Regions from separate parts of the Homo sapiens genome. Here all the other regions are reported to be linked to region 1. The links are microRNA targets in miRTarBase. Many come from high-throughput screens and were not tested one by one. Region 1 holds a microRNA gene; each other region holds the end of a gene's coding sequence.
What was found. The annotated mature microRNA hsa-miR-4796-3p reads UAAAGUGGCAGAGUAUAGACAC and lies in region 1 at 2,696-2,717, shown strand. An mRNA with a match to its seed (bases 2 to 7 or 8) in the 3' UTR can be bound and repressed. Matches are read on the target gene's strand: a 7mer-m8 pairs with bases 2 to 8, a 7mer-A1 pairs with bases 2 to 7 and ends in A, and an 8mer does both.

Region 1 (4,338 bases):
GAACACTGTCTTCCCAAAGGCTTCAGTAGGTATTCAATTGCCCAGGGCAATCTGATCAGCATGTCCTTGTTTCTAGAATTGAGTAAACCAAATCAGGATGAACCGCACATGGTTTAATAGTTAACTTTTAGAACAAGGGGCAGGGAGATGCTTTTACGCCATAGGCCCAGTGTTCATTCCAATCTCATTACTAAAGTCTGTTCTGAGAGCATTTACAGCTTTCCGGAGAGTCTGAGTTTGGCTGAATCCTGAAGATGGAAATGTAGCTTAATGACCTCCTTGTCCTGGAGTCTCCCTTAATACAGGTGAATTTTTGTGATAAATCATTCTCTAGAATCCAAAGTATTGATTGATATCATCATTATTACTATTATTATTATGATTAGCCCTTTCTTATGTGGTTAGTTCTCTCTCCATTTTCCTATTCTAGGAATAAGTGTAAGTTTTGTGAATATGCATTTGCTCTCTCTGAGTTTCTTTGAAACAGTTTATGTCTTCTTTCAAGTTGGAAGTGTGAGATATTTTGAATTATAGTTGGATGTGCAAGTCCAGTCCTGCTTTTTAGAGATCAGGAACAGAAAAGGTTCTACAAACAATCCTTTATTTGACTAAGAGACAGAACAAAGGAAGGGAGATAATTGTATCTTTGGGTGATTCAGTCTTCGGTGCTTAGTATTGATTGACTAGTGGTCTCTTTATCCTGGCCTCTGCTTTCTCAGATTCCTAAACAGACTCTTCCCTTATGTGTAAGAGGAACTCCCTCTTAGCATCTTCTCAGTCTCTTCCAAAGGAGAGTAACCATGGACGAGGATTTAGCATATCTAATGAATGGGCATTGGGTTATCAATAAGTATTAAGGGAAAATAACAACAAGAAAATTGAGGGCAGATTCATGGTAAGCATTGTTTGTGGAACTGTTGGACGGGTCTGGTGTGTAGTTGATGTTGTTGTTCTAAACTGAGCAGCAACAGTAACAACAAACAACGAAATCCTACTTCCCACTCTCTTCTTCCTTTCTATTCAAAAACAACCATCACTATCACAATAGCCCAGTAGACAAAATAAAAGCATGTCTATATTTTTGGTATATTACTGTATGTCTTAACTGTAGTTTCTCTGCCACACATTAACAGAGTTATTTATCCCTGATGTTTTTCAAAGATCACCTTTGTGCTTGTCTGCATAGCTGTTCTAATAGTGTTACTATTGTCTCTTCTTCATTATCTCCTTTTATTTGAGTTCTTTTTTTTCACGTATGCAAAGAGGCTCTTTTTCTAGGCTCTTTGCACACATTCACCATTGCACTAGGACAGATGGGTGTTTTTCTATATAATGCCTTTTAAAGTGAGAAGACAGCAAGAATAGATTTTGAACAATATTTTACCAGCATTATTGAAAAATTAGCTACTGTATATTCTATATACACACACAGCAGCTGCATAAAATGCAAATTCTATTCATGTCTGATCTCTTCTGCATTTATATGGTGACTATCGCTGTAGCACCTAAGCACTTTATGTTATTTCCTCTTATTATTATTTACCACCTGATCATTCCAGAGTGCTTTTTACAATCAGAGAATTTCATTAACAACCCATTCCCTCGCTCTTTGTTTTTCAGCACCCTTGCATGTAAAAGTATCAAGCATCTTGGTAGCTATATCAGATAAATTACAGTAAAAAGATAGAGGGCTTCCGACAGGAGGGCAGGGGAAAAAACACCCTAAAGCATCTCCTAAAATTTGGTTTGTGTTTTATGGTATCCAAATAATGTTACAGAAGTCTGTAATTTTAGTGAAAACCAAACCACTAGATAAGCGCTTTTATTTATCATGGTTTCCACCATTGCAATAATCGAAAGTGTGAGGTGAGGAAGAGGAATACTGTCTGCACTTCATAGATAGAGAGGACTGGGCAATTGCACTTTCTTCTCACTGTGGAAAGCTTGTGATTCTTATTGACTCTTGAGCTGCCTTTAGCCCAGAAGTATAGAAGTCAATCTGTTTTAAAATCCAAAAAGCTACTGTTATATTTTTTAAGCTAAGAGGATAGAAACATGTTTATTAAAAGGTTCATTGTGATTATAGATGAAAGTGCGTGGTTGGTACCTTAACAGTTTGATTGAATAAAAATCAAGTTCACACTGGGGTTTCCTTCTCAGCTCTACTCCTTGCTTTCTCTTTGACTCCAAGCTAATTGCATAACCTCTGGTTGACTTGTGCCTCGTCTACACATTCAAAGTGAAATTCAGAAATGAGGTTATTATCTAACTAATGTAGGCTGTAACATTATTTCTCTAAAATATCTCTGTGAGAGAATTTTGAAATTTCTGATTTCAGTAGATAGTAAAAAAAATAACAATTTTATGGACCATCTCCTTTTATTCTTAGACAACAACCCCATGGAGGTGGATACATCAGAGTCAGCTGGAGGTGGTCAGAATTATTTGCAATGTTTGGTAAGACACAGATTACTGCCCCTTCACCAAGTTTCTGATTCAGAGTCTAGGGTAGGGACTGATAATTTCACTTCTGATATGTTTCCACATGATGCTGATGGGGACCACATTTTTTGGATCACTGCCCTAAGGATGATATGGCTTAAGTACATATAGAAAAGGAAATCAAGGCTCAAGTCATGGCAGTAAATTTGTGTCTATACTCTGTCACTTTACTTTTGGCCTCAAGTCATTGCAGTAAAGTGGCAGAGTATAGACACAAATTTAGGCCTTCTTCCTACTACAGACATTTTCTTTTCACTTCTACTAGAGATATTTTCACTTTACTTTTATGTTTTGAATGACTGTCAGTCGTCTTGAGATCCTAAGTGAAAAAGCATTGTAAAGAGTGGTAATTGGATCTTTTCCCCTTAGATCCAGTGGCTACCCTATTGCATTTGTGAAAGGAGAGGAGGAAGCCATTCCAAATTTTAGTGATTAGCTTTGGTATGAACAGCTTTTAAGGCCAGCTTTATACTTCCCTTTGGGGATGAGAGTAATAAACATAGTCTTCTTTGTATTCATTCATCATAGCCTGTACATAGATATGAACAGGTTTCTCTTTGATGGACTTATGACCATGTTCTGCTGTGACAATGCTTTGTAAAAAAATTGTCACTTGTATATTACTTCTCCAAAAATCATAATAAAAAAAAGATGTCAAAGTGAACATGATGGGGCAAGGGAAAAACCACTGCAGACAGACTGAGGACACTTGAGTCTTGTACTACCTCACATATTGGCACAGATATACTGACCTCCATGGGAGACACCCAACAATTCTTCTTTACCCAAGCTATATGTTACAGTCACCCAGAAAGGCTTTGAAACAAACACCCACATCAGGGCCCAGGTACAAGAAATTCTGATTTAATTGTTCTGGGGTAGGGTCTGAGTATCAGTAGGTTTTAAAAGCTTGCCAGGTGCTTCTAATGTGCAATCAGGGTTAAAAAACCACTGGCCTAGTGTTTAAGGGCCTGGGTTTTGAAATCAGACAGATCTGAGTTCATATCTTGGCTCTTTCACTTAGTTACTATGCAACCTTGGACAAGTTATTTAATCTCTGTCAGCTTTAGTTTTCTCGTATGTAAAATGAAAATAATAGCACTTGTCTTGTAGGAGATCTATGAAAATTAAATTAAATGATACATTTAAATGTTTGACATCGTACCTGGCTTGTGGTATGGATCTACTACACATCAGCTGCTGTTGCTATTATAATGCACCTCAGTTTCCTTATCTGTAAAGCAAAAGAGGGGGCACTTTAATTTATGAAATGGAGGACAAATATCTCAGGATTTCGTATAGATACTTGTCTGTCACCATATCCACAGTATCCTACCCGGCTTCATTTTTGCCGTTCTTACTTCCTACACATATTTATTATTGTTAGGTACAATCATTGACAGGCTCAACCTTTATTATGATATTTTACCAATAAATACTTCTCTGCCCTCCCCCTTCCCACCAAGATTAAAAACTTGAAACATACAACAAATCCACTTGTCATATGGGGTAATGTAGGTATGATGGGTGGTTGACCTATGGGTTTAAGAAATAAAAGGCAGAGTTTTGTAAACATGTCTAAAAACTAACATGCCCCTATTCTTGATTGCTATTTTTTTCTGCCATCACTCACTCTAAGAGTTCAGTTGTTGGTAGCTTTCATCCTAGAAAAGGAAAATTGTTCATACTCTACTTCTTAAAGATTATTGCAATTTGTTAATTCCCTTCATTTTCCCATTTTCCCTGATTTCCTTCTGTATGTCTTTTTTTCTTTTCTTTTTTTTTTTTTTTACAGTCTTGCTCTGTCACCCAGGCTGGAGTGCAGTGGGGCAATCT
Region 2 (4,338 bases), not on the chromosome of region 1:
GGATTTAACTTTGATCATCTAATGGAAATGTGAGTTATAGTTTTTGTTTATTCTGTTTTTTCAGTTTTAACCATGCTGACCAACGAAACTGGCTTTGAAATCAGTTCTTCTGATGCTACAGTGAAGATTCTCATTACAACAGTGCCACCCAATCTTCGAAAACTGGATCCAGAACTCCATTGTTAGTTCTTTTTTTTCCATTGCTGGAAAATTTAGGGGATATTCAAAACATGGTATTGTTGCTGTTTAGTTTACTTAGCTTGTTGCTATTCCACATGCAGCTTCCTGGGAATTGAAGAACTTAGGTTTATTCTGAACTTTGCTCTCTCCCTCTGTAATTTGGAAATAGTTTATCAGCTTGCTAGTGGAATTTTCAGATGGGGTGACCAAGAAAGCATTTGGAGGACTTAAAAAGGACTGAGAAAATATTTATGGAGGGGGATAGGCTTTTGAAGAAAACAGATCTTGCATGTTTCTAGTGATTTTTAGACAAGTGATTTGCTGATATGAGAAACACAGGGTGGCTTAAAGAATTGCAGAGTTGGTCGGGTGCGGTGGCTCACGCCTGTAATCCCAGCACTTTGGGAGGCTGAGGCAGGCAGATCACCTGAGGTCAGGAGTTGGAGACCATCCTGGCCAACATGATGAAACCCCGTCTCTACTAAAATAAAAAATTAGTGGGGCATGATGGCGGTTACCTGTAATCCCAGCTACTCAGGAGGCTGAGGCAGGAGAATTGCTCGAACCCGGGAGGCGGAGGTTGCAGTGAGCTGAGATCACGCCACTGTACGCAATCCAGCCTGGACAACAGAGCGAGACTCCGTCTATCCTGCCCTCCTTCCAAGTTTTTAAGACTGTAGCAGTGGTAATGAGTAGCTTGTTTAATGAAAATGTTTCATCCTGGCATATCATGCTTGTCTTTTTAGTGGATATCAAAGTATTGCAGAGTGCCTTAGCAGCCATCCGACATGCCCGCTGGTTCGAGGAAAATGCTTCTCAGTCCACGTGAGTCCCTCTCTAACCATTTGGATTAAGATAAACTTTTTAACTGCAGTGAATAGCAGGATACCCCCATACTTCCTCTGACAGAACTATTTTGCCTGTGACCTCGTGTCTGGATTTTTATTTTTACCTTAAGGAAGCAAATTAAGATTTAGAGAAAGCAGAGAATGTATAGTTCTGGAAATAGCATAGTCAGCTTCAATTCTACCTTAGGCATGGAAATACATGATCGTATTGATTTTAATGTTTGGGTCACTATTACTTTCAGAGTTAAAGTTCTCATCAGACTACTGAAGGACTTGAGGATTCGTTTTCCTGGCTTTGAGCCCCTCACACCCTGGATCCTTGACCTACTAGTAAGTAAAGATGGGCAATTGGAGTTCCTCATCATCCTTATTTACTAGTAGTAGTAGTAGTAGTAGTAGTAGTAGTAGTAGTAGTAACTCTGAAATTCACCAGAGTCTGAAATTTGGTGAAGCTTAAAAGAAATTTTATTGGTAGACAAGTAATCCAATAAAAATTCAACATTTACATGACTCAGAGACATTTGTTTAAAAAAAAAGAAAAAATTCAAAGTTTTTTTTTTTTTTTGTATATTCAATGAAATGAGTAGTTACTGAGTTATAGTGTCCCGTTTTCTTCTCATGACTGCTACCATTTAATCATGGTAGTAGAGAGAAATGAGTGAGCAGCCATTTCAGAATTGCTTCTGAACATGAAAATTTTGGCTAGACTTAGACCTTAATGACCAGTTTTCCTCGTGATCATTTAAGGTTTTAGTTTGATGCCTGTAATCCCAGCACTTTGGGAGGCTGAGGCCAGAGGATCACTTGAAGCCAGGAGTTTGAGACCAGCCTGGGCAAAATAGCGAGACTCTGTCTCTACAAGAGAAAAAAAAAAAAATTAGCCAGTTGTAGTGGCTTGAACTTATAGTCCTAGCTTCTCAGGAGGCTGAGTCAGGAGGGTTGCTTGAGCCCAGGAGTTCGCGGTTACAGTGAACTATGATTGCGCCACTGCACTCCAGCCTGGATGACAAAGTGAGGCCCTGTCTCTAAAAAATAAAGTTCTAGTTATCAGAAGTGCCATTTTGATGGCACACCTACTGGATTTATTATTTTTCAGGGCCATTATGCTGTGATGAACAACCCCACCAGACAGCCTTTGGCCCTAAACGTTGCATACAGGTACAGCATGCTTTGGGTTTAGGGTTGGTTGTAAACTATTTTGTGCATTCCTTTAATACCTCATACCTCCCTGTGTTCTAGGCGCTGCTTGCAGATTCTGGCTGCAGGACTGTTCCTGCCAGGTTCAGTGGGTATCACTGACCCCTGTGAGAGTGGCAACTTTAGAGTACACACAGTCATGACCCTAGAACAGCAGGTATTGGGACAGATATGAACTGAGTTGTTTTGCCCCACTCTTTTGAATACTGCTGCTCAGCAGGCAAAGCGGAATATGGTCTTTACGGGTCAGGAATTTGGGGATTCTGAAAGACTTTGGTCCTGAGATTTAAAAAGCTGTCTTAATCTCTGTTTTCAGAAGGGTATTACTCAAATAAGGTCCTTTGATTTTCCTTGCTTACTCTCACTTTGCTTTCCTTCAGGACATGGTCTGCTATACAGCTCAGACTCTCGTCCGAATCCTCTCACATGGTGGCTTTAGGAAGATCCTTGGCCAGGAGGGTGATGCCAGCTGTGAGTGACCACTGTGGGTCAGGGGTTTTGTATTGTAATCTGGTACAGAGAAGCTGTACACTACTTAAATGTCTTTAATATTTCCACAGTGTAAGTAATGACTTTTATGCTGGGCTACTCGTCTAAATCACCTTTTTCTCTTTCCTAGATCTTGCTTCTGAAATATCTACCTGGGATGGAGTGATAGTAACACCTTCAGAAAAGGCTTATGAGAAGCCACCAGAGAAGAAGGAAGGAGAGGAAGAAGAGGAGAATACAGAAGAACCACCTCAAGGAGAGGAAGAAGAAAGCATGGAAACTCAGGAGTGACATTCCCTTCACTCCTTTTCCTACCCAAGGGGGAAGACTGGAGCCTAAGCTGCCTGCTACTGGGCTTTACATGGTGACAGACATTTCCGTGGGATAGGGAAGATAGCAGGAAGAAAAGTAAACTCCATAGAAGTGTCATTCCACTGGGTTTTGATATTGGCTTAGCTGCCAGTCTCCCATTTGTGACCTATGCCATCCATCTATAATGGAGGATACCAACATTTCTTCCTAATATTCTATAATCTCCAACTCCTGAAAACCCCTCTCTCAACTAATACTTTGCTGTTGAAATGTTGTGAAATGTTAAGTGTCTGGAAATTTTTTTTTCTAAGAAAAACTATTAAAGTACTTCCTAGTAGGGCTCTTGGTCTTTCTGGTTGGTGTTTTTTGTTTGTTTGTTTTTTTGCATGTGGCAACCTTTTTTGCTTTTGGCTTTGTGTACTCTTTTGTTGAAAATGATAATTGAGTCATTTAATTATAAATACTCAGATCACAATTTGAAGCTGTCTTTGAATTAAAGGACAAACTCCTGGAACCTTTCCATATACCAGAGTAAACTAGAATATCATTTTAAGTATTTATTGAATAAAATGATTCTATCAACACTGCTACTGTATTCAAGCCAGTGCAATAAAAAAGTGGGTGGACAGAGGTCATTCACTTTGACTTTGCCTGCCCCCTCCAAATCCCCAGTGTAAACAGGAAAATGAGAAGTCACAGGTAGAGGACATGCTGTCCAGGCCCATGTAACCAGGCATGTAACATACAAAGGAAGCCCCTCTGGTTAACTAGTCCTGAAGAAGGTAAGCCTCACGTATGCAGCTTAAAAAAAAAAGTAGAGGCCTCAGCTCATTTGTGAAAGGAAGCAAGAGCCATAATTAATGTAAGTCCTTTGGGAACCTCATTCTGGCTGTGTGTAGGTTTCCTGGGGCCCCTACATAAATGGGTAAGACGAAGTGCTTCAAACAAACTGTACGGCTCCCTTTTTAATGTCTGAAGGTCTATGGGGACTGTCTCCTAGGATCTTTGCATGTCTGTTGAAACAAGGCAGCTGGGGAACAGTACTTGTGCTACTGAGTCCATAGGCTCATCTGTTATTTGCCTGGGGAGCCAGGGGGGTAAATTCCCGAATCCAGCATTGCTCTCCTGCGGGCTGTTTCCTTGGCAACACTGTGGTTTAGCCGTCTCAGTCGTTCCTACAAGACAAGGAAGGTTTGGAATCTTAACCACTGTGAAAGGCTTGAGAGTGTAAGTGAACTAGGTGCTGAAAAATACCGGGCGTGATCTACCTCAAAGTCAGTCTTCAAAAGTATATATAAGAATGTAGGCCGGG
Region 3 (4,000 bases), not on the chromosome of region 1:
GCCCTGCCATTTCTTTGCTAATGACGGCTACTGTCTATAGAGTGTTCATGGGGTGCCCACTCCCTATATTCTTAAATCCTCATGGCCCTCTAAGACGGCAGGCTGTTCCCCGGCTCGGAGGGGGTAAGCCTGGCACAGCCCTGAGCTCTCCCTCTGTCTCTGCCCGTCGACCCTGCAGGTTCACGTACGGCCACGCGGGCACCATCTACAAAGACTTCGTGTACATCTCGGGGGGCCACGACTACCAAATTGGCCCCTACCGCAAGAACCTGCTATGCTACGACCACCGGACAGACGTGTGGGAGGAGCGGCGGCCCATGACCACGGCGCGCGGCTGGCACAGCATGTGCAGCCTGGGTGACAGCATCTACTCCATCGGGGGCAGCGATGACAACATCGAGTCCATGGAGCGCTTCGACGTGCTGGGCGTGGAGGCCTACAGCCCGCAGTGCAACCAGTGGACCCGCGTGGCGCCGCTGCTGCACGCCAACAGCGAGTCGGGCGTGGCAGTGTGGGAGGGCCGCATCTACATCCTGGGCGGCTACAGCTGGGAGAACACTGCCTTCTCCAAGACCGTGCAGGTGTACGACCGCGAGGCCGACAAGTGGAGCAGGGGCGTCGACCTGCCCAAGGCCATCGCTGGCGGGTCCGCCTGTGTCTGCGCCCTGGAGCCACGGCCAGAGGACAAGAAGAAGAAAGGCAAAGGCAAGAGGCACCAGGACCGGGGCCAGTGACCCTAGCTGCGCCTCTTGGGACCATCCTCACCGTCACCTCCCAGGGCTCTGTAGACCAGCAGCAACTTCTTAGTATTCCGGAAACATTATGTACAACTTAGCAGCTTTTTTTACTTTTATGATTCTTGGTATTTCTATGATATCACAGTAACCAATTAAATACTATCTGTAACTTTACATATCTTGCTTGAATAACTAACCCTGGGCCCAGGCAGTGAGCAACCCCTTGTATCTTCACAGGTCTTTGCCCCGTGTTATGATTCCTCATGGGTCCTTGCTGACTGTCCCCCTGAGAGTAGCTGGCACGTGGGTAACACAGAAATTTCTGTAGTGAAGCTTGGGCCTCAAAGGGTTCTCTTAGGCCACCTAGTCCAAGCCTCCCCAAACCTGGCTGAACTTTTAAGAATACAGATGCGTGAGCCCCGCTCAGAATTATGGAATCCAAAACCACCAGGAACGGGGAGGAGGTGGTGCCCAGAAGCTGTATTTTAACTAGTTCTTGGAATTCTGGGTATTAGTCACATCTGGGAATCACTGGCAAGGTCCAGTGTGTTTGTTTTATAAATGAGTGCACAGAGACCACCCATGAGGGTGAGTGAGTGAGTGACCAGGGGCCACGCAGCTCGCTAGACTGTCAGATGAGACATGATGACTTCCCGCTGGGGAGCTGTTCTCCGTATCAGGTGAACGCTGTTTCTGAATAATTCCGTCTTTCCTCATTGGAAACCTTCTTGAATTCTAAAACGTTACAGGTAACCAAAAACGAAAAAAGGTATGAAGCTCTTTATACATATTTTTTTGTAATTTGTGCATTTTTTTCCTTTTTTTTTTTTCTGAACCCACTGTCTTTTATATTACTGATGTACTGAGCTCCCAAATCTGTTTATTTCTCAGGAAAGAAAAAGTGAGTGCTATGGAATTTGCCATCGTTCTCTGTGACTCTATCTTGAGGCGCTGTTGAAAGTTCCTGCACAGAGGAGCACATGTGGATCCCTGAGAAGGCAGTGGAGGGCTCCCTAACTCCCACGCCAGGTCCTGCCCCAGTTTTCTGCTTCTAAGTAGTTTCGTGCTGCTGGGCAAATTCTCGAACAAGTCCGTGTGTTCCCTCATCCACCCCGCTTAGCCACAGGATTAGATGGAATACCCTCCAGGCTCCTCCCGGGTGATAGGGCCATTCAGCCTCTGAGCTGTTCGTACCCGGATGGCATCCCCTTCAGGATGTGGAGCTGGCCTGCACTGACTCCTGCAAACAGTTCCTAAAGCAGGTGTCAGGGTCGCTTGCCCTTTAAGAGGGCTCTTAGCTGCCCGAGTGGATGAGAAACGTGCAGAACTATGGGAGGATAGGAGTGTGATGGGTTTTAAGCATGAGCCAAGGAAGGCATGAATGAGCTGTACCTCACCCAGCATCCGATGGCAGAGATCAGTAAACTTCAAGATGTGCTTCATCTTCAATCCTAGTCTAACACCAGTCTTCCTGCAGACAGTTCCGAGAGCAGGTCTCGATGTCACTTGCCCTTTAAGAGGGCTCTCAGCTGCTCGAGTGGATGAGGATCAATGTGTTAAGATTGATATTAGACTAGGAAAAAAATCTTAGTTAACTTTAATTTCCATTTCTTCTGCTTCTTTGCTGCCCCTCCTTTCCCTTCCCTTCAGGGTTTACTGTGGTTCTCACTGGTCTGTTTATGTAGCCATCCAGAAGAGATGAGAGCATTTTGGGGACTGAAAGCTTCAATAGCCAACTTACTGCCCTCTGTGGTTAGTGAGGAGGGCAGTCTGCATGTTCAGCTAGCTAGTTATTTGCATGTGAAGTCCCTGGAGGCTTACAAACTGTTGAGAGGTTCTGCGAGGCATACAAACAAACAGACCAAAAGGCTGGAAACTCTGCTTGGAGCTCTGCAGCATTCCGGTGTATGAAAGGTTCCGAGAAGTCTCAACCCAGCATTTCCAAACTTCTTTGAGCCTAAAAGTCGTTTGTCTCATACCTAGTCCCAGACCCCCACAAAACATGTTTTGCAGAACTTCTGCCAACTTTGGGATAGCTTACCCCCTTCCTATTCGGGAAAGGTTTTATTGCTTGTAGACCCCTCAGAAGGCAGGGTAGGGTGTACGTGGGCTGTTCTCCCCATCTCAGCCTGGGTCATGAACAAACGGGCAGTTGTTTGGCCTGAATCTCGGGGCAAGTTGGGGAGAGCACATAGAAAGACTCTGTGAGTGATTTGGGGAGTGGGATAGCTTTGACCTTGGAGAGAGGAGAGCCATTGGTTTTCAGCCTAAGCCAGCTCTTTTATGTTTTGCTTCTGGGACTTGTCCCTGGAAATGTGTGAGCTTCTGGCCTCTATTCTGATTTTCTTGTGCCTCATGAGTTACATACGACGTCCTGCGCTTCATATTTTGTGGTGTCTCTCCTGATACTATGAAGGTGGTTTGTAATTGACATGGCTTTGACCCTAATATTACTAAGGTTGGGACCACCCTTTTAAAGGGAGGATAAACAAGTTTCATCTTGTGGGTCAACTTCTAATATTTGATGGTGGCTACACTGTGACAAGAAAGGTTTTTGAGCTTGTTGGGGTCAGTGGATGGGCACAAGGGCACCCAGTGGTGGTGCCCGGGCCAGGTTTTTGTTACTTGTCTTTTTAAGTTGAAAATTCACCCTACTGTGCATGAAAATGGAACTGAAAATGGAAGAGACCATGCCTGGGCAACATGGCAAAACCCCATCTCTACAAAAAAATTACAAAAGATTAGCCAGGGATGGTGGGGCATGCAGTAGTCCCAGCTGCTTAGGAGGCTGAGGTGGGAGAATCACCTGAGCCTGGGAGGTTGAGGCTGCAGTGAGCTATGACCACACCACTGCACTCTAACCTGGGTGACGGAGTGAGACCCTGTCTCAAAAGAATAAAATGTTTTTTAACTCAGATGGGCAGAGTTTGGGCTGTGCTTATGCAGTGGCCATTTGAACCGCACAGTCACGAATGTGGGGTTTTAAACTAGAGTGATGAAGGCACAGGTGCTTGCAGGCTGCCATTTTGAGAGGGAAACAGCCACACATGTCATCATGTTAAACTTTCAGTGTTTCAAGCTATTCTGCTTGAATTTTGAAGACACCTGGATCTTTTTTTTTTTTTAACATTTCAAAATAAGCATGGCAGGCTTCTATTGAGGTTTGGACTTCTCTCATTTCTAAAGAATTAGAGTTGTAACTTCATATTAGTTGTAAGTTTGGGGTTTGGTCCTCACCCAAGTTGGAAAGCTGTTTGCTTAAG

Region 2: miRTarBase lists SNAPIN as a target of hsa-miR-4796-3p. Seed matches in the 3' UTR shown: 7mer-m8 at 3,641-3,647.
Region 3: the mRNA of KLHL36 is a reported target of hsa-miR-4796-3p. The part of its 3' UTR that is shown has no 7-base or 8-base seed match.

Annotation. Positions count from the first base shown.
Region 1 is chr3:114,741,831-114,746,168 of GRCh38, reverse strand. It overlaps MIR4796 (microRNA 4796), which reads left to right and starts at 2,644; the gene lies at 2,644-2,724. The region is part of intron 5 of ZBTB20 (zinc finger and BTB domain containing 20); the gene reads left to right.
Region 2 is chr1:153,661,063-153,665,400 of GRCh38, reverse strand. SNAPIN (SNAP associated protein) reads right to left here. Exons shown (of 4, transcript NM_012437.6): 4 at 3,549-4,201. The coding sequence ends at 4,100. It overlaps ILF2 (interleukin enhancer binding factor 2), which reads left to right. Exons shown (of 14, transcript NM_004515.4): 8 at 65-181; 9 at 927-1,005; 10 at 1,271-1,358; 11 at 2,125-2,186; 12 at 2,268-2,382; 13 at 2,606-2,696; 14 at 2,845-3,613. The coding sequence ends at 3,005. Among named protein-coding and RNA genes, the nearest start is that of SNAPIN, 4.5 kb to the right of the region's middle.
Region 3 is chr16:84,661,400-84,665,399 of GRCh38, forward strand. KLHL36 (kelch like family member 36) reads left to right here. Exons shown (of 5, transcript NM_024731.4): 5 at 179-4,000. The coding sequence ends at 734. Among named protein-coding and RNA genes, the nearest start is that of KLHL36, 15 kb to the left of the region's middle. RefSeq lists an enhancer at 2,206-2,425 and a silencer at 2,516-2,565.